Homo sapiens: one gene and its partners. The protein of the gene in region 2 purifies or fractionates together with the protein of the main gene of each other region. This does not show direct contact. Each region holds a gene or a part of one and is shown on either strand. Other genes may lie near its edges. The genes, in order: MPRIP, MYO1C, SCAF8, AFAP1, CORO2A, TMOD3 and E2F3.

What was found.
Region 1: the proteins of MYO1C (region 2) and MPRIP purify together in Homo sapiens (affinity purification with mass spectrometry; one large-scale study listed by BioGRID and IntAct). This does not show direct contact.
Region 3: the proteins of MYO1C (region 2) and SCAF8 purify together in Homo sapiens (affinity purification with mass spectrometry; one large-scale study listed by BioGRID and IntAct). This does not show direct contact.
Region 4: the proteins of MYO1C (region 2) and AFAP1 purify together in Homo sapiens (affinity purification with mass spectrometry; one large-scale study listed by BioGRID and IntAct). This does not show direct contact.
Region 5: the proteins of MYO1C (region 2) and CORO2A purify together in Homo sapiens (affinity purification with mass spectrometry; one large-scale study listed by BioGRID and IntAct). This does not show direct contact.
Region 6: the proteins of MYO1C (region 2) and TMOD3 purify together in Homo sapiens (affinity purification with mass spectrometry; one large-scale study listed by BioGRID and IntAct). This does not show direct contact.
Region 7: the proteins of MYO1C (region 2) and E2F3 purify together in Homo sapiens (pull-down; one large-scale study listed by IntAct). This does not show direct contact.

What each region holds. Positions count from the first base shown.
Region 1 is NC_000017.11:17,167,957-17,171,456, reverse strand, and holds part of MPRIP (myosin phosphatase Rho-interacting protein), read right to left. Parts: intron 1-3,500. UniProt on the Homo sapiens protein: Targets myosin phosphatase to the actin cytoskeleton. Required for the regulation of the actin cytoskeleton by RhoA and ROCK1.
Region 2 is NC_000017.11:1,479,187-1,482,686, forward strand, and holds part of MYO1C (unconventional myosin-Ic), read right to left. Parts: intron 3,373-3,500; coding exon 3,292-3,372; intron 1,700-3,291; coding exon 1,520-1,699; intron 1,440-1,519; coding exon 1,341-1,439; intron 520-1,340; coding exon 406-519; intron 317-405; coding exon 245-316; intron 1-244.
Region 3 is NC_000006.12:154,799,416-154,802,915, reverse strand, and holds part of SCAF8 (SR-related and CTD-associated factor 8), read right to left. Parts: intron 946-3,500; coding exon 769-945; intron 1-768. UniProt on the Homo sapiens protein: Anti-terminator protein required to prevent early mRNA termination during transcription. Together with SCAF4, acts by suppressing the use of early, alternative poly(A) sites, thereby preventing the accumulation of non-functional truncated proteins.
Region 4 is NC_000004.12:7,937,062-7,941,140, reverse strand, and holds the start of AFAP1 (actin filament-associated protein 1), read left to right. Parts: upstream 1-1,279; 5' UTR 1,280-1,485; exon of another isoform or gene 1,486-2,140; intron 2,141-2,351; exon of another isoform or gene 2,352-2,488; coding exon of another isoform or gene 2,489-2,549; intron 2,550-4,079. UniProt on the Homo sapiens protein: Can cross-link actin filaments into both network and bundle structures. May modulate changes in actin filament integrity and induce lamellipodia formation.
Region 5 is NC_000009.12:98,123,557-98,126,637, reverse strand, and holds part of CORO2A (coronin-2A), read left to right. Parts: coding exon 1-89; intron 90-1,732; coding exon 1,733-1,864; 3' UTR 1,865-3,081.
Region 6 is NC_000015.10:51,892,153-51,895,652, forward strand, and holds part of TMOD3 (tropomodulin-3), read left to right. Parts: intron 1-1,662; coding exon 1,663-1,793; intron 1,794-3,500. UniProt on the Homo sapiens protein: Blocks the elongation and depolymerization of the actin filaments at the pointed end. The Tmod/TM complex contributes to the formation of the short actin protofilament, which in turn defines the geometry of the membrane skeleton.
Region 7 is NC_000006.12:20,478,379-20,481,878, forward strand, and holds part of E2F3 (transcription factor E2F3), read left to right. Parts: intron 1-1,467; coding exon 1,468-1,579; intron 1,580-2,827; coding exon 2,828-3,047; intron 3,048-3,500.

The DNA of each region.
Region 1 (3,500 bases), about 16 Mb from region 2:
TTCCTGGGAGAAGTTGGTATGGTAGGTGGGGACAGGCTGCTATGAAATGGAAACCAGCCAACCCTGGACCTTCCTGCGTTGCTGCCAGGTGGGACCCACAGGAAGGAAGAGAGAGCACGTGGGCAGAGGCTGGCTGTGTCTGGTCTGGAGGGACACGGTGAAAGGCCCGTAAAACAGGGATGAGGGACTTGTCTGCTGGAGGGAACCAAGGCCATTCCACATATAGGGAGTGGCCTGGCGGGCACCGGGCTGGGAGCCTCTCAACCCACAGTGGGTTGGGGGTACATAGAGTCCACTTCTGGGAGCTGGGGGTTGGGACTCTGCCACTAGCCAGCTGACAACCTCCAGCTGGTCACTTAATGCTCAGGTGTTGACTGAGGGAGTAAGATCAGGCTACAGGCTCCCCTTCCTTCTAGCCTGTGTCTTCTTTCTTACTCTTTTCTTAAAGAAGGGCACCAATGACTTAGCACCTCTGCTAACTCTAACAAGTACATGACAGGAGACCTGCTTTCCAAACTCTCCTGTGCCTCCCTAGAGCGACATAGGCATGCCCCAGGATGGGAGCAAGCCACACCAGGAAGCCCAGGCCTGGTTATCAGAGCTGTGCTCACTAACAAAGCAGGTGAGCGTGCTGCACAGCTGCCGGGAAGGGTGGGTGTGCAGCTATTTTGAGCACGGAGGCACACACTTTCTGTCTAAATCCTTCAAGTGGTCTGCTTCAGAGAAGGGACTGGGCCTCTCGCTGAGTTTTAAAAACTGGAAGAACGTGGCCACATTCCATTCCAAATTCAAGTGTGGGGGTTTCCCCACTCTGGGCTGATAGCCTGCACCACTTGGTTAATCTTCTTGCATGTGGATTCAAGAAAGGATACCAAGAAATCCTATCAGCATGCCTGGGCATTTTTCTCTGGGCCCACTTTTGGTGATGGCCAACTCTGAGAGCCTCAGGCAGTATTTCCAAACTCGTGGTCAGTCTGGACTTGACTGCAACCTATGTGCTGCTCTGGGTGAATGTCTCAGCTATTGCCACTATTAACTAGGCGTCCCATCCCCTCTCCCAGCGGCTCCACCTGGAAGCATCTGTCTCTTTCTGCCACCCTCACACCTCAGGACGGCTGCAGGAGCTCGGAGCTCTGGAGCTCCTGGTCCTCAGGCCCCAAGGTTGAGCTCTTCTTTCTTCCTCCCACTCGCTTCTGTTTGTATGTGGCTTCTCAGTTAACACATTTAACTAATAGGTCTTTTTTAATTAAAAAAAAAAAAAATATATATATATATGGAATACTTCATGAATTTGTGTGTCATCCTTGTAAAGGGGCCATACTAATCTTCTCTGTATCATTCCAATTTTAGTATATATGCTGCTAAAACGAGCACAACTAGTATTAATAGATCTTTTAAGTCTTTTTTTTTTTTCTTTGAGTCTACTTGCTGGGAAAAGTCTTATTTTGATCTGAGTGCTTTGGAATATTATGCAGGTAAGAGTCAAAAATCTAACAGAAGCACTGGGACATCTTTAAAGACCTAGTTGCTTCTTTGGAGAGAAACTATATGCTAAAAAATAATTGATCTTGCAAACAAATGTTAATTTAAGCCAATCATTCCTGACACCAAAAGAAGTTCCCCGATGACTGCAATCGTGGTGTGGTGGGAGCCTGTGGATGTCAGAGGACGGCTGTTAGGCCAAGACCCTGTCCCCAACGACCCAAGTGGAAATCTGCATAAAGTGATGAAATCTCAAGGTGCTGTCTATTTACAAGTTCTGTAAGTCTGCAGGGGTGGGTGAGAACACCACACCTGGGCTAGAAGCTCCCAGGCACAGGAGGGGACACTATGCAACGGCAGCTAAGGCAGCAGGGAGTGGACAGTGTCCAAGCCCCTGGGAGGGGCCTCATCCCGACCTGCATCATCTGTTTCTCCCTCCTAGTGACACTGGCCCAGCACAATCTCTGGTCAGTTCTCAACATAAGGCAGTCCTCTTTTTTCTGATTTCTTGCTCACTGTTGGTATAATGGCACCTGCATGGGGCCTCCCCTGCACCTGGTTGGCTAACCTAAAGCAGCCTCGGTGTGGAGGGGCCTCTTATGGATGCAGACAGGAAGCAGGGCATTGCTGTGCCCAGGCCCTGCCCCCATGGACCCTGCTGATTGTCTGGGAAGCTGCAGGGAAGGGCACTAGCAAGCGTATTTGGGGTCAAAGCAAAGGTTTGTGCAATTAACTTTTCAAGGTGCACCTGGATCCACCCATCTCAGTGCTGCTCTTGGTGAACTGACCACAGTGCCATCATATACACACACTTTGAAAACATAGCTGTTGAAACCTTCTCACAACTCATAATGGTTTTTAAAAGGTTTTGACTGATTTGGGGAAAGAATGGTGAAAAAGAGCTTCTCAGTTCTCCTGAGGTGCTCGCTGACAACCACACCTGTGTGTCTGGGTGGGGCCGAGTCCGTCACACAGAGGTGACATGTGAGCTGCTGTTTCCATTCAGAGCTACAGGAGTAACGGGCTGGGAAAAACAGGTGTCCTGCTAGACAGTGGCTGTGAGGATGTGTAGGCAGGAGCAGTGGCAGCCACCTGGGAGTCAGGAGCTTGCAGCACAATGGTGCTGGCTGTGTGCGCGCCTGGCTCTGCCACATGAGCGTGGAAGGCACCACCTGAACATGGCTTTTGAGGGGCCTAGTCATCCTAGTCATTTACTGGGGCAGCTTCCTGAGTGGAAGGAACATAAGGGCACAGGTATCATGGTAAACTTTTGAGTCTAAGGGATGATGCTTGACAGCCACACATGGTGGGTGTGGCCTGCAGCTACAAAGGGTGGGGCCAGACAGCTGGGCCTCCACTCAGCCCACCACCACCTCCAGGGCCTGGCATTTCGCCTTTGTGCTCCAGGACCTCAGGGGCGGGGATGCAGGACAGTTCTGGGGAAAATCTACTTGTAAAGGTCCTGGGGAAGGGGACAGGAGTGGCTGGAGGCTGTGCTCCGTGGGAAAGTTCTTCTCACCAGAGCACACATCAAATGCCAGTTCCAGAGAGGGACCCTCCGCCCGACTGTGCTCTCCTAGGGCAATCAGGAGGAGACTGCCCTCCAACTGGGCCCTGGCTCTCCGGGGTGTTGCTGTGAGTACAAGGCTGTCCTCAGGCAGCTGCCTCAGATTTGGGCTGGGACTGGGCCAGACGGGGTTCCCGGGGCAGGGGCAGGAAGGAGGCAAGGCTGGCAAGGGGATTGGGGGCTGCTCTCAGGAACACGGAGAGGCCGCATTAGGCAGGCAGGGAAGTGCTGGGAAGACTACGTGCTCCTCTCCCACCAGGGACCCTGGCGGCCCTCCTGCTAGTTCTCCTCCTGGTGGAGGACACTGGGGGATGCCGAACAAGAGGCTAAGCCTGCGGCCCAGGCCCTGCTGAGACCACACCATGGCTAGCAAGTAGAGGGACAGCAGCATATCCCCTCAATTCTGCCTGCACGGTAGCTGAGCCAGACGTCCCCACACCCACCCCATTAT
Region 2 (3,500 bases):
TTCACCATGTTGGCCAAGATGGTCTCGAACTCCTGACCTCAGGTGACCTGCCCACCTCAGCCTCCCCAAGTGCTGGGGTTACAGGCGTGAGCCACGGCGCTCGGCTCTCACTCTGCTTCTCTGAGCAGCCTTCCTTCCATCCCTCCAGCATTGCTGAGGGAACCAGGCGAAGGGGAGTGATGGGAGTAGGGGCTGCCTTGGAACAGCTGCCCCTCCACACCCGAGGGCAAGGGCCCGGCCTCACCTCCTCCCCCTTGGCGATGATCTTCCTGTGTGTCAGGGCTTCTCGCAGCGTCGAGCCTTCCACGCTGAGGAGCTGCCAAGGGCAGGCGAGGACACGGTGAGGGTGCACCCCCAGCCCCCGCCCCCGCCGTCCTCCCGTCGCCCTCTGCCCGCCCCACTCACCCTGGTCAGATACTTGAGCTGGTTCTCGGTGGTGACCTGGGCATTGCTCTCCTCGTTGGCAGCAAAGTGGATGTTGCCCAAATGAAGGACGCTGGCCACGATGCTCAGCAGGTCCTGGGGGAGCAGGCCGGGGGCAGGAGGGGGTGAGAGGGGCCAGAGAGCCCCAAGAGGGCAACTAGCAGATGGCCATGCAGGGGTGGGTGGTGAAGTGTCGGAGAGAAGGGGCTGGAAGTGGGAATGGGTGTTAAAGGTGGAAGGTGATTCTGCGGGTGGGATGGGCACGGTGGCTGACGCCTGTAATCCCAGCACTTTGGGAGGCTGAGGCGGGAGGATCATCTGAGGTCAGGAGTTCGAGACCAGCCCAGCCAACATGGCAAAACCCCATCATTATTAAAAATACAAAAATTAGCCAGGTGTGGTGGCAGGTGTCTGTAATCCCAACTACTCAGGAGGCTGAGGCATGAGAATCACTTTAACCTGGAGGCAGAGGTTGCAGTGAACTGAGATCGCACCACTGCACTCCAGCCTGGGCGAAAGAGCGAGACTCCATCTCAAAAAAAAAAAAAAAAAAAAAAAAGGGATTACTGGCCCACGCCTGTAATCCCAGCACTTTGAGAGGCTGAGGCAGGCGGATCACCTGAGGTCGGGAGTTCGAGACCAGGCTGGCCAACATGGTGAAACTCCGTCTCTACTAAAACTACAAAAAATTAGCTGGGCGTGGTGGCGGGCGCCTGTAATCCCAGCTACTCGGGAGGCTGAGGCAGGAGAATTGCTTGAACCCAGGAGGCGGAGGTTGCAGTGAGCTGAGATTGCACCACTGCACTCCAGCCTGGGCAACAAGAATGAAACTCCGTCTCAAAAAATAAAAAACAAAAAAAAAAGGAGATTTTGGGGGTGTGACAGGAGGAAAGCGAGGGTCCCGGAAGAGGCCTCACCTCCACTTCATCCTCGGTGAAATCAATGACTGTCAGAGCCTTCCTGACGACCTTCCAGTCACTCTTGTCGTTGATGGAGGAGACTTTGGCACACTGGCCCTGGAGGAAGGGCACAGCTGGGTTGCCAGCCCTGGCACCAGATCCCTGGGTGGCACCTGCCCTCCCTGCCAGCCACTCACCTTCACCAGGTACAGGTAGCTCTGGGGGTTCCGTTCCAAGCCCAGCCTGCGAAGAGTCTCCTCCTCGCCCCCCTCCAGCAGCTGGTAGAAGATGTGGAAGTTCCGCTCCCCATGATTCTGGTGCACCACTCGTGACTTTTCCAGGAGGTAACTGAGGATGTGGCCACCCACGGGGGCACCCTGTGGGCAGGGCAGGGCATGAGGCCGGGTCACGGGGACTGGGAAAAGAGCCCACCTGCCCCTCTTCTCCCCTGCACTCCTGGGCTTTGGCAGCCAGACCTGGATGCCAATTCCAGCCCTGCCACTAGCTGCGTCGGCTCAGGCACGCCACCCACGCTGGACTCAGTTACTTCATCTAGGAAATGGGGAGATTCAACTCCAACGACCTGGCTGCTCCACCTGGATGCCTGACAGGTATCGCAAATTCAACAGGCCTGAAGCTCAACACCGGACCTTCTCCCTCTTCAAACAAGCTCCTGTTAGTGTCTGCCCTCCTTGGTCAGTGGTGACTACATCCTTCTCGTTGTTCAAGCCAAGGACTTGGCAGTCCTCCTGGAAGCCTGTGTTTCTCCAAACCCTACATCCAATCAGGCAGCTCATCCTGCTGCCTTAACCTTTAAAACATCCAGAATCCAATCACTGCTCGCCACTTCCACTGCACCACACTGGTCTGAGCCAATGTCACCTGTCACCTACATGATGACATCAGCCCCCTAACCGTTTTCCCTGCTTAGCCTGGTTCCCCTCCCATCTATTCGTCTACTCCCAATCTCCCAGTGAAGCAGCTAAAGTCATTTTTTTATTTTTTATTTTTGGAGACAGGGTCTTGCTTTCACCCAGGCTGGAGTGCAGTAGTGCAATCACAGTTCACTGCACCCTCGAACTCCCGGGTTCAAGCAATTCTCCTGCCTCAGCCTCCTGAGTAGCTGGGACAACAGGCACACACCACCGTGCCTGGCTAATTTTTGTATTTTCAGTAGAGGCAGGGTTTCACCATGTTGGCCAGGCTGGTCTTGAACTCCCGACCTCACGTGATCCACCTGCCCCAACCTCCCAAAGTGCTCAGATTACAGGCATGAGCCACCTCACCCAGCCCGATGACTCCCCTTCTACTCAGAGTTAAAAAAAAAAAAAAAAAGTTCTTGCAACAACCCAAAAGGGCCTGCACCGTTTGGCCTCTCTCTGTTCGCGGGCCCCTGCTCTCTTCTCTGGCCGCTGTGGCCTCCGTGCTGTCCTGGAACACTTCCAGCACCCTCGTATCTCAGGCCTTTGTCCTGGCTGTTCCGTTCCCGCTGCCTGGACAGGCACCTGCACAGCCTGCTCCTATCTCCATCAAGCCATTATTTTCTATTTTTTTTAGAGACAGGGTCTCACTCCGTAGCCCAAGCTGGAGTACAGTGGCATGATCATAGCTTAGGGTAACCTTGGACTCCTGGCCTCAAGTGATCCTCCTGCCTCAGCCTCCAGAGGAGCTGGGACAACAGACATGTGCCACCCTACCCAGCTGTCAAGCCTTTATTAAAATGCCACTTTCTCAGTGAGGCCTACCCTAATACGACCGCACCTGCCCCCCACTCCTTACTGCATTTTATTTTCTGCCACGGCCTCAATTTCCCTGTTTATTGTTTATCACCCTGGAAGGCAGGATTTTTGTTTGCTTTGTTTGACTGCTGGAATTGCAGCACCTGGAATAGTCCCTGGTACCCAGTAGGTGCTTCACACGTGTAGAGCCTACTGAATGGGAATCCTCACGACACACACATCCATGGTACCTTGAAGTCAAACTGCACATCCATGTACTTCCCGAACCTGCTGGAGTTATCGTTCCGGAGGGTCTTGGCATTTCCAAAGGCCTAGGAGTGGACAGGGGTATGAGGGACACCTGGCACTCTCCCCCTGCCCTCCCCACCCCGCCTTGTAGCTACTGCTGCCCCTCCCCTCCCGCACTGGGCTTCTCTCCCTGCCCCTCCCCTCCCCTCCC
Region 3 (3,500 bases), on a different chromosome or scaffold from region 2:
TTTAATTATTAATAATTTAGGCATCAACTTATTATAGTTACAGTATAGTGACTAGTTGTAGAGAAGTTTCCTTTAAACATTTTACATATTGATTAAAGAATTTTAATTTTTGCAGGTCCAAATTACAGAACCCAGAGCATCACAGTAAAATGTGGCACCCATGAAAGAAATCAGACAAGCTCAGAAAGTAATCACTTGCCTCAGTGGTGAATACAAGATTTTACTGACTAGTTATTTTTAGTCAAATGAAAATATTTTAAATGTTTCAAAAATGTTTCAAAAAAAATTTTTTTTTTTTGAGTCAAGAGTCTTTCTCTGTCACCCAGGCTGGAGAACAGTTGCTCAATCTTGGCTCACTGCAACCTCTACCTCCCAGGTACAAGCAATTCTCCTTCCTCAGCCTCCCCAGTAGCTGGGATTACAGGCACGCATCATCTGGCTAATTTTTGTATTTTTAATAGAGATGGGGTTTCACCATGTTTGCCAGGCTGGTCTCAAACTCCTGGCCTTAAGTGATCTGCCTGCCTTGCGCTCCCCCAAAGTGCTGGGGATTATAGGTGTGAGCCACTGTGCCTGGCCTAGGAAAAATTTTTTTAATTACTTAATTTTTTTCAGAAGTTTGAACCTTTTGTAAAATTCAGACTGTCTTATACAGTGTACAGGAGATACTGAAAGTCTACAATAAAATTTATTTATAGAATTAAAATCCATGATAGTATATAATATTTAATAATTCATATAGACTTGATCCGATATTTTAATTTCTACCTTGTTAAAGGAGACTCCCTGTTCTAAGGGAGTAAGAGTGTTGGCAGCTGCAGCTGCAGCTGTAAGTTGTGCCGTAAGAGCTTGCAACTGAACAACAAGACCAGCATCTAGGGCCTGCAGAATGGAAGGCTGGGGCTTCTGTTGTTGTATCTGTAAGGTTTGTATTAATTGTTGAAGCTGGAGAGAAAAAAATATATATTACAAAACAGGTGTTGGGTTTTTTCTGTAAGAGTGGCCACCTAAAACTTTTAGTCAGTAAAATTAATCATTCCACACTCTCTTTGAAAAAAATACACACTATTAATAAGTTAATTTTTTGAAGTTTTTCTGTGTACCTTATATAACACAGTCCTTAATAAGTTTGTCTTACTTCTGGAAAGTCAGCGAACTTTAAACAAAATAAAGTGATCTGTGACAACCAGATAAAGCGCTCATCACAAGCTGACACCTTTTTCACTAAATTTCTCTACCTTGTTCAATTAACTCTTTAAACTCAGTAAAAGGACGAGTACTGAAAATAGCAGCAGCTTTTGCTGTTATTCAGAATTACCATCTGAGCACGTACTTCCTGAAAGTTGGAGAGTCATTAAGAAATCTGTTTCTCAGAGTAGAGTCTGGCAACTAGTTATTAATAATAGTGTCATCTAGAGTTGAAGGCAACTCTTGTTCCCACCATGTACCCACCCCTGTTAAAAAACAGACACAACAGTGAGATCTTTAAGAGATTCTATAAATAAGAAAACCCTATATACATTCCAGAAATAAATGATAATCAATCTGGTTATAAGCCTGAGTTAAATCCAAAAATTATTAGTTTAAAAGAGAAAAATAAAGACAGCAAAGCTACTGATAACCAAGACAACTGTACTCTTGAAGTTCAACTTCTAGGATGAAAGGACACAAAAACTATGTAAGATGACAGTAAAGTAATTTCATGCCTACTTAAAACAGTAACACTAGGAAACAAACTAGAGTCACTTCACTATCAACTAAACATTTTCTATAAAACTATTAAAATGATAGAAACACCGTATTTCCCCTTTACACTTTTTAACTGCTCCTTTTGACATCTCCATTTTTCCCATGGCACTGTTATTCTTTTGGTCACCCAGGTAAAAAACCACTGGAGCATCCAATTTTCTTCCTCTACTCTGACTTCGCAGTCTATCAATTACTGTCTTACTGACTCTGTTTGTACTATCCCTTTCAAAGTTTCTTCTGTCAAAAATATTTATTTTAATAGGCATCTTTTAAAATAAGAACACTTGCTTTATGAATTGTTTCCAAAATATTACCACAAAATAAAATTACTAATTCTATAATTTCACCTAATATACAGCTAATATTCAGTTTCCCAACTGTCTCAAAAATGTAGAAAATAGATTCAACCTAAGAGTACACATCGGTTTTTTAAAATATTTTTAAGTCTAGAATGGCCCCATGTTTTCTATTGTATTTTCAGAAAGTATACAACCTTACTATTTTTCATAATCATTACCCTCCTTTCCAAAACCACTACTACCAAAAGAAAGATATTCTGTCTCTAGACTTCTCCTCTCTCTAATCCATGTAAAGTACTGTTAAGATCATGTGACTTCAACATTAAAAAGTCCCTGGTGATTCCCCATTGCTTAGCAAATGAAACCTTTTATTTCTGAGCCCACCATTTATAGTTTTCACAGCCCAGGTCACACTTAAGTCTGCCATTTAACTTTGTCATTAATAGCTTACACAGACTATCTTTTCCTTCAAACAACTCAACTCTACAATATCCTTTGTATCTCCAACACTGTAATGCTTTTGTACATCATTCATTCATTCCACAAAAACATATTGAACACCATCTACAACCTAGACATTGGACAGGCAGCTGTCAACAACCACAAAAAATTCTTGCCCTAGTTTAGCATACATTCCAGTGGGAAGAGGTAGAAAAAAAACCAAGTAATTATATAACATAACAGAAGGTAGTAAGTGCTAAGGAAGGAAGTAAGCAGAGGCGAGAGAGAACGGGAGTGTAAACAATGACAGGTAAGAGTTTACAGTTTTAAATAGCAGTCACGGCCAGGTGCGGTGGCTCATGTCTATAATCCCAGTACTTTGGAAGGCCGAGGCGGGCGGATCACTTAAAGTCAGGAGTTTGAGACCAGCCTGGCCAACAAGGTGAAACCTTGTCTCTACTAAAAAATACAAAAATTAGCTGGGTGTGGTAGCAGAAGCCTGTAATCCCAGCTACTCAGGAGGCTGAGGCAAGAGAATTGCTTGAACCCGGGAGGCCAAGGTTGCAATGAGCCGAGATTGCGCCAATTACACTCCAGCCTGGGTGACAGAGCAAGACCCTGTCTCTAAATAAATAAATAAATAAATAAATAGCAGTCACTGAAGGCCTTATTAAAGTGACATTTAAACAAAGACAAGAGATGAAACCATATGAATATATGAGGGAAGTGGGTTTTCAGTATAAAAAACTTCAAAAGCAGAGATCTTGGGGCAGGATTATAGGTAGTTTATTTAAGAAACAACAAAAAGGATGGAACAAGTTACAGGAGAAAGAGGTGAGAAAGCAAAGCAAAGGATAATATAAAACCAGGGTTGGGGGTGGGCAACATAAGCAAGTCTTATCATTAGTTAGAGAAGTCTATGAACTGGTGATAGAAAATGTTGGGAAGGGAACAATAGGTCAAACTGAGAACATACAAGGACCAATGAAGTGACTGCTGAAACTTGGGATT
Region 4 (4,079 bases), on a different chromosome or scaffold from region 2:
TAGCAGTGCCCACTGTGAATGGAAGGGCATTTGGCCTGAGCCCAGACATGTACAAGTTGGGCAGAGAAGGGGGTGGGTCCCTGGGACCCACAGAGGAGCAGCTATGGAGGTACAGAAAAACCAAGTGTGTGGGGGTCACATGATGCAGGAAGCTCAAATAAGATGAGGAAAGAGGTTTTAAAGATGATCAGGGTTGGGGACAGTAGTTCATGCCTGTAATCCCAACACTTTGAGAGGCTGAGATGAGACGATAGCTTGAGGCCAGGAGTTTGAGACCAGCCTGGGCAACATAGGGAGACCCCATTTCTAGAAATAAATAAATACATTGGTACTTGGCATTTCAGGTGGGGAACAGCAAACACGTGAAAGCTCTGAGGCAGGAAAGCGAAGTGATTAGTGCTTGCTTGCTCCTGGTTCCTTTATCAGGCCTTAAAGAGATGCAGAGACATCTCAGGTACTCCTTGGCCGAGCTCCTTCAGGGAGGGCCTAAGTTCGCTTCTACTTCACATCTTTAAAAAAAAATTTTTTTTTTGGAGACAGAGTCTCACTCTGTCGCCCAGGCTGGAGTGCACGCAGTGGCACGATCTCGGCTCACTGCAACCTCCACCTCCTGGGTTCAAGCGATTCTCCTGCCTCAGCCTCCCCAGTAGCTGGGACTACAGGTACGCGCCACCACAATCGGCAAAGTTTTTGTATTTTTAGTAGAGACGGGGTTTCATCTTGTTGGCCAGGCTGGTTTCGAACTCCTGACCTCAAGTGATCCACCTGCCTCGGCCTCCCAAAGTGCTGGGATTACAGGTGTGAGCCACCGTGCCCGGCCCTACTTCACTCCTAACGCCCGCCATACGTGCTTCCAAATGTTTGCTGAATGACTACAAGATGAACGAGTGAATGGGATTACGTTTCTTCGAGCGGCAGGCAATCCTATTCCTTGGACCTCAGTTTCCCTTTCTGTAAAGCAAGCCTTTCTCTCGCTCTCTGCCCTAAAAGCCTGAGCTCTGGGTTTGAGATGAGCGCGTCCTGTAGAGCCGACTCCAGGTAGACGTTGAGCTGGGTATTCTAGGAGGCGATGATCGGGCCGGCTCTTTGAGGCGGGTCCTCCCGCGGGACCCCGCAAGCCCAGTCCCAGCACCGCCCCGCCCAACCTCCCTTTGTTCCCTCAGGCCCCGCCCACTCCGCGCAGCTCGCTTCCCATTGGCCGGGGGGCGGGCCCTGGGCGCCCGGCTCCGCTGGGGGCGGGACGGCGGGCGGCGGGCGGGGCCGTGTGCGCCTGCGTGGTGTCTGTCCCGGCCGCAGCCCCACGCCGGCTGCAGCTCCGCGAGCCGAGCCGGATCTCGAGCGGGGTACACGGGCTGAGGCGGCGGCGGCGGCCCCGCCCCGGGGCTCCATTGTTAAGGCGGCTGCGGCTCTGTCGGCTGTTCAGCTGCGCTCCAGTCGGCCCAGGCGCCGCGGCGAGGAGCGAGCGCTGCGAGGTGGCGGCCTGAGGTGAGACGGCGCGACTGGCGGCAGGGTCTCCGGACCCGGCGGGGGTCTCTGCCCCGGGCGTGGAAGCTCCGAGCGGGGCTCCGCAGGGTCCGGGGTCCGTGCGCCTGGGCTTTGTCTCGGCCTCGGGTGGTACCGGGGGCTCCGCGCCTGCTGCGACGCCGCGTGGGCCCGCGCGGGGGTCCCGGTCGTCCTGCGGGTGGGGGCCGGTCCCCACTGCTCCCCAGCTCCCCGCGTCTGCCCGGAGGGGACTGCGTGGACCCGGGCGCTGGCTCCTGCCCGGTGCCCCCGCGGCGTGGCTGGTCCCCGTGTGCGTCAGAGGGGGCCCTGCGAAGACCCACTCGTGGGGCGGGGTCCGGGTCACCAAGAGTGGGAGGCTCCGCCGCCCTCCCCCGTAGCGAGACTGCTTCGTCCGACTTACCGAGGGGACTGCGCGGACCCTCGGACGAGGGGGTCCGTGACTCTGGATGGGGGCTCTTTCTTGGCCCCGCATGACGGCTTCCTGAGTGTTTTGTCACCTATAGGTTGTTGCGTGGACCCACGCGCGTGGGTCCCGGCCGCCCTGCGAGTGGGGCTCTGCGCCGCCCCGTGGCTCGTCTGGGTCGACCCCGCCTGGGACGCGAGTGTAATGGGGGTCCGTGCGCGGGGGGCGCGGTTGGTGGGGGCGCACTGCCCCGCCCCGTGATTTATCCTCTCACCTGCCCGGCGGGTGGAAGCGAGAGGCGCGGGCCCGGAGCTGTCGCGCAGCGGCCGCACCGTCCTCTCCCCTGGCCGGCGGGCCCCGGGGGGCGCGGGGCTGTCACCGCGCGTCCCACCGCCGCGCTTCCTGCTCTGGCCCCGGGCTGGGCTCTGATTGGAGGGAGCAGGGCCCTACTGCCCGGAGCTTCTTGATTTCTTCCGTTAGTAATGGGAAGAAAAAAAAAATCTGGAAAGCCAGATTGAACTTTGTAGCTCTCAGCGCCTGGAGAGTGGAAGAAACTCTCCCAAGAATTTGGCGGGCTGGAAAATGCGTTTCAAGCAGGAGCATCCACACCCACGGAATGAGGCCAAGGCAGTTACAGTTAGAGGTCAGATTTATGAGGGGAGAGCGAGGGTGAGGTCCGTGGGTGGGGAGACTCCGACCTCAGCTTGATGGGAAGACCTGATGCTGCCCCTCAGACGCTGTATTTCTCAGCCACCAAAGAAAGTGGAATCACTCCTTAGTGAATGCTTTCATCAAACTTTTGAAAAACCTGTTATGTCCCAGGAAGCAAAATCGAACTGGACAGTTTTCCCCTTTTAGGAGAGTTAAAGATCCCGGAGACAAACAGCAGAAGGCTCAAGGAGTCCAAATACCCAACCTGAAGTTCTTTCTGAACAAGAGATGGTGTTTAAGTAACAGGCATACAAGACAAAACTGAGCTAATTACCGCAGCTGTGGCTCCTAGCCCTCTAGCGTGTCATGCGGGCCCTTTTGCTTTCTCTGCCCTCCGCTGCCCCAGACCCCCACTCTACGCCGCACCTCCAGTCATCAGCTCATGCCGACCCATTGCTATGGACTCTGTTGAGGTGGCTCCCTTCTCTCTGAAGCTTTGCTTGTTCTCCTGAAGTCCTGGTCTTTAAGAGCTTATGATCTGCCAGGACAGATTGGCTTTGGGTAATACATGGTTAACTGTAGCACAGCTTGAAAAATGCTCTGATAGAGGTGGGCAGGCGCAGTTTGTGCATGCGGGTAAATGCGAGCTCCTTTTTCAATACCATGAATCCAAGTATTCATGCTATTTTAAATCTGCAATTCTTTGACTCTCCAGAGGGTTTTTAGATTAATCTTTTTCTATTACTTCCTAATGTTTGTTGCATAGTGCAGAGTACTTGATTAAAACTTAGCAGGTCGGCCGGGCGCGGTGGCTCACGCCTGTAATCCCAGAACTTTGGGAGGTCGAGGCAGGCGGATCATTTGAGGTCAGGAGTTCGAGACCAGCCTGGCCAACATGGTGAAACCCCGTCTCTACTAAAAATACAAAAATTAGCCGGGCATGGTGGTGGGTGCCTGTAATCGCAGCTACTCATGAGGCTGAGGCAGGAGAATAGCTTGAACCCAGGAGGCGGAGGTTGCAGTGAGTTGAAATAACTCCACTGCACTCCAGCCTGGGCGATAGAGTAAGACTTCGTCTCAAAATAAAAACAGAAACAATGTACTGGGTCTACGTCCGGCTCTGGAATTTTCCTGGAAGGCCTTCTCTTCTGGGCTTCATTTTTCTCACCTTTGAGGATCGTAAACTACATAATTTCTAAGAATCTTTTCAGCCCTACACCTTTAATTCTTTCAAGCAAATATAGTAGAGAAAAATTCTCTTACCAGCAATGGTGTAAATAACGGAAGCCTTTGAAAATGTGGATTCTAAAGTGGAAGTTTCTTTTCTTCTTCCCCTTTTTTTCCTTTTAAACAAGTTGAGTTACATGTGTATATACTTTATCTCAGAGTTAAGGACAAGTATCTATGATGAAACCTTAAGCAACTTTTTGGCAATATCTTTCATATTCTTCATAATTGTTTTATGTGCAACATCTTCACTATATCCAATTGGTTTGTTTTTTTCTCATTAATGGAGTTGTTG
Region 5 (3,081 bases), on a different chromosome or scaffold from region 2:
CAGCAGAACACAGGCTGGAGGAGAAGAAAACCTGGCTGACAAATGGCTTTGACGTTTTCGAATGCCCCCCACCAAAGACAGAGAATGAGGTGTGAAGGAGGACGGGGTGGGCCTTTCACATGGGGCAGCTGGGGTGGAGGGGAACAGATCCAGGCTGAGAAGAAGGGAGAAAATGAGGCATGAGAAGAATAACCAGCTGTGTGGCCTGGCCTAGTCACTTGACTCATTTTGTTAATTCATTCAACAAACAGGCAGTGAGCTCCATCTTATGCCAAAATGATGGGCATACATAAAGATGGTGGGAGGCTGGGCACAGTGGCTCACTCTTGTAATCCCAGCACTTTGGGAGGCCAAGGCGGGCAGATCATGAGGTCAGGAGTTCAAGACCAGCATGGCCAACATAGTGAAACCCCATCTCTACTAAAAATACAAAAATTAGCCGGGTGTGGTGGCGTACACCTGTAGTCCCAGCTACTTGAGAGGTTGAGGCAGGAGAATGGCTTGAAATTGGGAGGTGGAGGTTGCAGTGAGCCAAGATCACACCACTGCACTCCAGCCTGGGCAACAGAGCAAGACTCCATCTTAAAAAAAAAAAAAAAAAAAGATGGTGGGGACCAGGTGACCAGGTGCAGTGGCTCACACCTGTAATCCCAGCACTTTGGTAGGCCAAGGCGGGTGGATCTCTTGAGGCCAGAAGTTTGAGACCAGCCTGGCCAACATGGCGAAACCCCGTCTCTACTAAAAATACAAAAATTAGCTGGGTATGGTGGTGCGTGCCTGTAGTCCCAGCTACTCTGGAGGCTGAGGCAGGAGAATTGCTTGAACCCAGGAGGCAGAGGCTGCAGTGAGCCAGGATCACACCACTGCGCTCCAGCCTGGGCAACAGAGTGAGACTCTGTCTCAAAAAAAAAAAAAAAAAAAAAAAAAATGGTGGGAAACCATCTGTAAAATGGAGAGGGTTTGACCTAGTGGGTATCAAAGTCTTTCCAGTTCTGACATTATAGGACTTTCTGTGCTTTCAAAGTCCACATTTGTTTAGTGCCTACTGTGTGGCAGATCCTGGGGTAGGCACTTTGATACAGCACGTGATTGAATTCTCTCAACAGCCCTGGAAGTCAGTCTGTAGTGGCTAAGAACACAGAGGCTGGCATCTCACAGATGGATTCTGATCCTGGCTCTGCTGAGTACTAATTTAGGGTCTTAGACCCAGAGACTGAATGTCTCTAAGCTTCCGTTTCCACGGTGGTACGGTGGGGACACTAGCACTGCCACCCTTATAGGGGTGTCACAACGTTCCAGTGGGATAACGAGGCCCTTAGGGCATCACTCAATATCTAACACCCATTCTGCACAGAGGGCAGTTTTCTGACCCCATTTTCCAGAGGAAGGAATGGAAGCTCAGAGTGGGTAAGTAACTTGCCCAAGGTCACACAGTTCAGTGGTGGCGAAAACACCAATCCCCAGACTTCAGAGCCAGGCATCCTTTCCTCTATTTCATGGAGGATCTATGGAAGCAAAATACATCTGAAACATTCCAGTCTTCTTGAATTTCATTTATTGGGTGAAGTAAACAAGGTGTTTGTAAAAGATCTATGCAGTGACAGCCCCATCAGGCCTCAGCCATGTTAATGTGACCGCCTCCACCTTTCTGAGTCAAAGAGGGATAGTGGTTTAGCTTTCAGCTGGTGTCCTGACACCATGGTGATCCTGCCTTCCGATCTTTCTTCCCCAGTTGCTGCAGATGTTCTACCGGCAACAGGAGGAGATCCGAAGGCTCCGGGAGCTGTTGACCCAGCGAGAGGTCCAGGCCAAACAGTTGGAACTGGAGATCAAAAACTTGCGGATGGGCTCAGAGCAGCTCTGAGCAGAGACCTCTGCCCTCCTCACCCTCAGGGACACCACTCGGCTCCATGGGGAGGTTTAGAACCAAACCACAAGTCCCCTCAAGGACAACCACTATTTCTATATTTTTTACCAGAAAACAAAACTCTCCATCGCTGAAAGAGATTCCAGTGGGACATGGTGCCGTTTTTCTGTTTGCCTTCTTGCAACAACAGTTTCTGAATTGACTTTGTTTTCAGATGATGCCTTCTGTTGAATTCTGTTATTAAGGGCCCATGATGAGCTGTAACTTCTCAAGAGGAAAGAACACAGTAGAAAACTAGAGCTGGAAGGATCTAGGTTGACCTGTCTGTGATTTTCAAACTGTGGTCCAGAGAATAGGGGAAGACTGGGCCAGACGCAGTGGCTCATGCCTGTAATCCCAGCACTCTGGGAGGCTGAGGTGGGCGGATTGCTTGAGGTCGGGAGTTTGAAACCAGTCTCACCAGGCGCAGTGGCTCACGCCTGTAATTCCAGCATGTTGGGAGGCCGAGGCTGGTGGATCACGAGGTCAGCAGTTCGAGACCAGCCTGACCAACATGGTGAAACCCCATCTCTACTAAAAATACAAAAAAATTAGCTGGGCGTGGTGGCAGGCGCCTGTAATTCCAGCGACTTGGGAGGCTGAGGCAGGAGAATTGCTTGAAACCGGAAGGCGGGGGTTGCAGTGAGCTGAGATTGTGCCACTGCACTCTAACCTGGGCAATAAGAGCAAAAGTCTGTCTCAAAAAAAAAAAAAAAAGAAAGAAACCAGCCTGGCCAACATGGTGAAACCCCGTCTCTACTAAAAATACAAAAATTAGGCAGGGCGTGGTGGTTCACGCCTATAATCCCAGAACTTTGGGAGGCCAAGCTGGGCGGATCTTCTGAGGTCAGGAGTTCAAGACCAGCCTGGCCAACATGGTGAAACCCCGTCTCCACTAAAAATAAAAAATTAACCAGGCATGGTGGTGCATGCCTGTAATCCCAGCTATTTGGGAGGCTGAGGCAGGAGAATCGCTTGAGCCTGGGAGGCGGAGGTTGCAGTGAACCAAGATCATGCCACTTCACTCCAGCCTGGGTGACAGAGTGAGACTCCGTCTCAAAAAAAAAAAGTTGGCCAGCCGTGGTGGTGAGCGTCTGTAGTCCCTGCTATTCGGGAGGCTGAGATAGGAGAATTGCTTGAACCTGGGAGGTGGAGGTTGCTATGAGCCACGATTG
Region 6 (3,500 bases), on a different chromosome or scaffold from region 2:
GAGTTTTGCTGCTAAAATCTAGAGGAAGGCAGGAAGGAAAAAAGCCAGATAGTAGTCCATTTTGAACCCGGTCAGTCTTTCCATGTCAATTGCTCTTACTCTTTCGTGCTCATTCATTAGTTTGTGAGCCTTTTGTGGTCTTTGACTTGAATGACCACAAAAAAGTAATGTTTTCCCCAGAAAATGTATCCATAAAAGTTTACCTATTATAGGTGTTCGTAGACCTCCACACACATGCATCAGAGCACAGTGATCTCTTTAAAGGGCTCAAGGATTTCAGGTCCTCTGTCGTTCACATCTGAAGCATCATATTCCTGTGTGGGTAGCTGAGGTAAAGATTAGGGAGTGAGAGTGAGGGAGGGCAGTAAATTTTGGAGCCTCTGTCTCAGTAGCTCTTCTGTGTACCTTTACCTCCTCTCCCTCTCTGCTCCTTATTCCTACCCTCTTTCCTATTCCTTCTTTCTCGCAGGAAGTTCTCCCCACTTTCCCACTGCAGAGTACTCCTCGTGGGAGGAAGAGGTAATGTGCCCTCCCATCACCTTATTCTTCTCATTTAGGCTATATTTCTTTAAGTCTGTGATTCTTACTGCCTTTATGCCAATTATCAGTCAAATTTCAGAGAAATGATGAGATGCTAGATTTTATCATACTATTATTTTATCTTAAATTTTGCCAAAAACAAATGGCATCATCAACTTGTGCTATCAAATATATTTGAGTGGTAAAAATATCTTGTAATATACTAAGACAATGAAAATATTCATTTTTGAAGACTGATACATGGCAAACAAATTAAATGTTGAATATGTTTGGTATTTATATTCAGTAAAATTTTATTTGGGTGCTTTAAATATGTGTCAAGGCCAAGCGCAGTGGCTCCTGCCTGTAATCCCAGCACTTTGGGAGGCCAAGGCAGGCAGAGCACTTGAGGCCAGGAGTTCAAGACCAACCTGGCCAACATGACGAAACCCATCTCTACTAAAAATACAAAAATTAGCCAGGCATGGTGACACACGCCTGTATTCCCAGCTACTTGGGAGGCTGAGGCAGGAGAGTTGCTTGAACGTGGGAGGAGGAGGTCGCAGTGAGCCAAGATCTTGCTACTGCACTCCAGCCTGGGTGGTAGAGTAAGACTCCATCTCAAAAAAAAAAAAAAAAAAAAAAAAAAAAATTAAATAAATAAATATGTGTCAACACATAAAGGATCTTTTCGGAATTGTGGGGATGGAACTTTTAAATCTGTCCCCTTGAATAAATATGCGTGTATGAGAGAGAGAGAAAGAGATGTTACCAAGTCAATTATCTGCATGCACTGTAATAGTATCAACTCCAGGCTGAGCACAGTGGCTCCTGCCTGTAATCCCAGCACTTTGGGAGGCTGAGGCGGGTTGATACGAGGTCAGGAGATAGAGACCATCCTGGCTAACATGGTGAAACCCCGTCTCTACTAAAAATACAAAAAATTAGCTGGGCGTGGTGGCAGGCACCTGTAGTCCCAGCTACTCAGGAGGCTGAGGCAGGAGAATGGCTTGAACCCGGGAGGCGGAGCTTGCAGTGAGCCGAGATCGTGCCACTGCACTCCGGCCTGGGCGAAAGTGCGAGACTCCGTCTCAAAAAAAAAAAAATGGTATCAAATCCTGCTCTTTTCATTTATCACTGCAGATGTGGTCAAAGGTGAAAAGATTCTTCCGGTATTTGATGAGCCACCAAATCCAACCAATGTAGAAGAGAGTTTGAAGAGAACTAAAGAAAACGATGCTCATCTTGTTGAAGTTAATTTGAATAATATAAAGGTAAGTGTGCTAATCAGAGTGGTTTTGTATTGCTTTGAGTTAGTTGAACCTAGGATGAGAGCTGGGCAGTTGATAAAATAGTCTAATTCTTTCTACTTTAACGTAAAGTTTTTGCTCTTACCAGTATGCTAACATAGGTTTCTTCATATTTTAGATATTGAAGTATTATGGTATAGTATTTTCTAACTTGCTTTTTGAAGAATTTATCATCTAAAAATGTAAACCCTACAAACTGTCAGAATAAATCTCAGGTTTTCTAAATACTGCCCACTTCTAAGAACATTTAGCCTCTTGGGTCTTGCTTTTTTAAAATTCGGTTCCTTAGCCAGGTATGGTGGTGCATGCCTGTAATCCCAGCTACTTGGGAGACTGAGGCTGGAGGATGGCTTGAGCCCAAAAGTTTGAGACCAGCCTGGGCAACATAGTGAGACCTGCCACTGTCCCATCTCAAAAAATAAAATAAAACCTGTTTTTTTGAGGTAAAATTTAAATATGGTAAAATTCTCCCTTTTAGTGTCCAGTTCTATGAATTTTGACAGGTGCATACAATTTTGTACAACCACCATTACACTCAAGATATAGAATATATCTGTCACCGCAAAAGTTCTCTCATACCCCTTTGTAGTCATTCTCTGACCCCCAGCTCTAGCCCCTGACAACCACTGACCTATTTTCTTTCCCTATTATTTTGCCTTCTCCAGAATGTCATATAAATTGAATCCTATAGTATGTAGCCTTTTGGGTCTGGCTTCTTAGCATAATACATTTGAGATTGATTCATGGTGAGTGTGTCAGATACGCTGCAGTTTGTTTATCTGTTCATCAGTTGGAAGACATATGGGTTCCTTCCAGTTTGGGATGTTTATTAATACAGCCACTATATACTTTTCACACACAGGTTTTTGTGTGAACATGTTTTAAATTCTCTTGAGTAAACACCTAGGAATAGGCTTTCTGGGATCTTATTTTGAGTTTTAAACAATGCAACTCTTCCTTGGAGTAAGGAAAGAAGAAATTAGGAGGACATGGGGTAATTAATTACCAAAAAGTAAACTCAAATTATCTAGATATTAGCCATTGTGTAATGGCTTCATTATAAATTCCTCATTTTAAAACTTGATTTTTTTGAAGTCGAGGACAAGTGGAGGAGAGCATCTGGAAATCTTGAGCCTAGGGAAGGAAGCTTCTGTGCTCCTCTAGGGAGTGATCCTTCCTGTGAGTAGAGGAAGGAAAGCCTCAGAGAAAGCTTATATTCATAGTTGATTACTAACTTTTTTTTTTTTTTTTTTGAGACAGAGTCTTGCTCTGTTGCCCAGGCTGGAGTGCAGTGGTGCGATCTTGGCTCACTGCAACCTCTGCCCTGCCCCAGGTTCAAGCAATTCTTGTGTCTCAGCCTCCTGAATACCTGGGATTACAGGCATCCACCACCACACCTGGCTAATTTTTGTATTTTTAGTAGAGATGGGGTTTCACCATGTTGGCCAGGCTGGTTTTGAACTCCTGACCTCAAGTGATTCGCCCACCTTGGCCTCCCAAACTGCTGGGATTACAGGTGTGAGCCACTGCGCCCGGCCTATTTTTATTTTTTTTAATTTGGTCCCTGTGTATCCCTTTCTCTAAATAAACAGTAATCATCTGAAAATAACCAGGCTAGGGGGAATTGAAGTCTCAAGATACTACTGAGAGAAACCAGCATCTTCAGTATTT
Region 7 (3,500 bases), on a different chromosome or scaffold from region 2:
GGATGAGCTAGTAACCAGTGGCTATCGTAGTAGACGGTGCAGGGTTAGCTGGTAACTTTCCATAGAGGGGCTGAATATCTAGCTTCCGCTGATAAGTTATTACTTACGTTTTCACATCACGGGGAGTTGTTTTGAAATTGCAACTCTCGGCTGGGTACAGTGGCTCACGCCTGTAATCCCATCACTTTGGGAGGCCAAGGTGGGCAGATCACCAAAGATCAGGACTTCGAGACCAGCCTGGCCAACATGGCGAAACCCCGTCTCTACTAAAAATACAAAAATTAGCTGGGAGTGGTGGCGTGCACCTGCAGTCCCAGCTACTTGGGGAGGGCTGAGGCAGGAGAATCACTTGAACTCAGAGGCAGAGGTTGCAGTGAGCCAAGATCGCGCCACTCCACTCCAGCCTGGGCGACAGAGCAAGACTCTGTCTTAAAAAAAAGAAACTGCAAATCTCCTCATTAGAAGAATCTGCCTGAAAATGAGCCTAAATACATATTTTTGTGCTGAGTGTCCAGTTGGTGCCATTTATTTTCTAAAACACCTGTCATACCCATACAATTAGTACTTAACAACTGCTTAACCATCTATCTTTTCTCTTGGACTCGAAGCCCCTTATCTATCTTGCTTACTAAGCCCAATGCCTAGGTACCTAGAAGACGCTATGTGGATATTTTAAAATTTAATTGGAGTTAAATTAAAAACTTAGATAAGGGCTTCTCATTTGCTAGGCTTGATAAGAAAATGGAGAAAGTAATAGTGGTTGAAGCCCAAGATTGCATGTTTGCAGTATTTGTTTTCCCGATGAAGGGCCGTTTGTAGTCTGTGACTAGTTGTGTTACGATCCAATCACCCTTTCTCTCATTGAATATACAGTATATAGAGAGAGTGATTGAAAATCTACAGAAACCCAGGCTCTGTGCCAAGCACTGGGTATACAAAGATAAATGGGAAACAGTCCCTGCCTTAAAGGAAATGAGAAACAGATAAGTCTTACAGTAATACCGAATAAGTGTCATGATACAAATAAACACAGAGTGTTTGGGGAGCACAAGGAAGGGGGTCCAACCCAGGTCGGAGAATGGGAGATGGGCAGGAAAGACTCACTGTGGAAAGGGAATTTAAGCCCCACGGCGCCTGTGATATTCTTAGCATCCAACCCCATGCCAGGCACATGATGTGTTGAATCAATGAACAAAGTGACTCCTGAACCTAATGCTGAAGGATCGCTGTGTTTGTCCATCTGGGTGTGGACGGATGATCACGGCAGGTGAAGAGAGTGTGCATGACAACCCAGCCTACAACGCTAGAATCCTGGCTCTAGGGAATGACAAGATGCTGAGTGGGGTGGAGCAGAGGGGTGAGAGCTGGCATGAGCCTGCAGCATTTGGCAGGCCAGCCCACAAACTGCCTCCCTTCTTGTTCTTGTCCATATGACCGGTGACGAGAGATCGCACTTTCTTATTACAGGCAAAGCGAAGGCTGGAGCTAGGAGAAAGCGGTCATCAGTACCTCTCAGATGGTTTAAAAACCCCCAAGGGCAAAGGAAGAGCTGCACTACGAAGTCCAGATAGTCCAAAAAGTAAGGATCTTTTCATCTCTTTCCTTATTCTCCTTGGTATGGCATTTCCAAGTTTCAAAGCTTATGGCCGGAAGGATGCCAAGGTGTGAATAATTCTGGCATGTTTTGTTCTTTTTCATTTCTTTCTGTGCTTATCCAAAAAAATAAATACAATGTCAGCAGACAACCAGTGAAAGGCTACAGAGTCACACTGGTACCATAAGGGAAGACTTCTTTTAACTGTATGTAGTTTCATTTTTCAACTCGGAATACGAACTTTTGGCACCATTCTATATCAAATTTAATTTTAACTTCCCTTAATGGACATTGCTTCAGAGTCTGAGGCAAACTGGATGTCCACGAACTATGCCAGAGTCACCAGTGTCTGTGCCGACCTCAATCTCCAGCTCAGCATATGATAGCGTAAGAATTGATTGAGCCCGATAAATTGCAGGCTGTTTCTCTTTCTATCAAATACTATTACCGTTTCTTGTGGGAGAGAGAGAAACGTAGGTTAGAAATAGCCAACTAGTCCCATTATGTATGTGTTTGCATTTAACATAAGGGCTAAATTAGACTTTGTTCTCTCTCTTCCTTTAGTTCATGCATTAGGCAATCCACAAATTGTGTGACACTAAATTAAAACCTTGACCTGTGCACCTATGGGGGAACAAGTACAATATTAAGTAAGGAAATTTCCTTTAAGAGAGATGGGGAGATTTGGCAGAAGACTTTTCCAGGTAATTATTTATCAAAATGAAGCATTGTTTGGAAAATTGGTGAACAGGTGATACACGCACACACAGATACCAGAGCCTGAAAGGCCATTTGAGATGGGTCTGTTTAAGACCTTGTCCTGCAGTGCTAGTGAGACTCATAGCCTGGCTCCATCACCGTAGGCCTCGTGTGTGCTGGTCCCCTGAGGCCACAGCACTCTTTCATTCATTTGACAGATATTTTTTAGCGCCCGCTATATGTAAATTCTTCATTGGAGCCAGGGAATGGTGTAAGTCAAGGTAGAAACTCTTGAGAAATTCAAGGTGAAATGCTTTAATCAAACCCTGGAATTTTTACCTTCCCTTCCTGCTCTAATAAAAAACTTTCATAGCTTTCTATGACTTGCCAACACCAACAGCAACGACAGCCTTGCTTCAGATACTAATACTTTGGCTGCAGTGGGAAAGAGAGCTTGCTTGACTGCAAAGACACCCTTCATTTCTTTACCTTTCCCCCTATCCCCCACCCGCTCGGTTTTTGTTTTTCTTTAAGCTCCAAAATCTCCCTCAGAAAAAACGCGGTATGATACGTCTCTTGGTCTGCTCACCAAGAAGTTCATTCAGCTCCTGAGCCAGTCACCCGATGGGGTATTGGATTTGAACAAGGCAGCAGAAGTGCTAAAAGTGCAAAAGAGAAGGATTTATGATATCACCAACGTTCTGGAAGGCATCCACCTCATTAAGAAGAAGTCTAAAAACAACGTCCAATGGATGTGAGTAGGAGTCCTCCCCATGCCCCGGCTCTGAGGGGGTCGTTTCAAACTGCCTGGTTTCTTAGTTCCTCACTTTCACATCCACGCCCACACGTTCTTTTCTTTTCTCTCCTACTGTTTTCTTCTCTCTCATTCTCTCTTCCCTCCTCAGCTTCTAAGCCAGAAGTTTGAAGTCTCTTTACAAAGAGACTTTGTTTAGATACTGTCAGAGATAAAAGGATTTATATTTGATGAGCATCCAGCAACGGCATCCTTAAAGAGGTCCCTGCAGTTGGAAAGTGGACTGCTGTTCATCTGTTACATAGATGTCTGTGTGCACCCACGTGTGTATCTGACAGATGTGTACACGTCTTCAGCTTGTTTCTAATAAGAATCTGGAAATGATGGCTTATGGGTTATCTATGTGTATACGTACAACTGCATAGTTACAGAATATCTTTATCCATGGTTCTA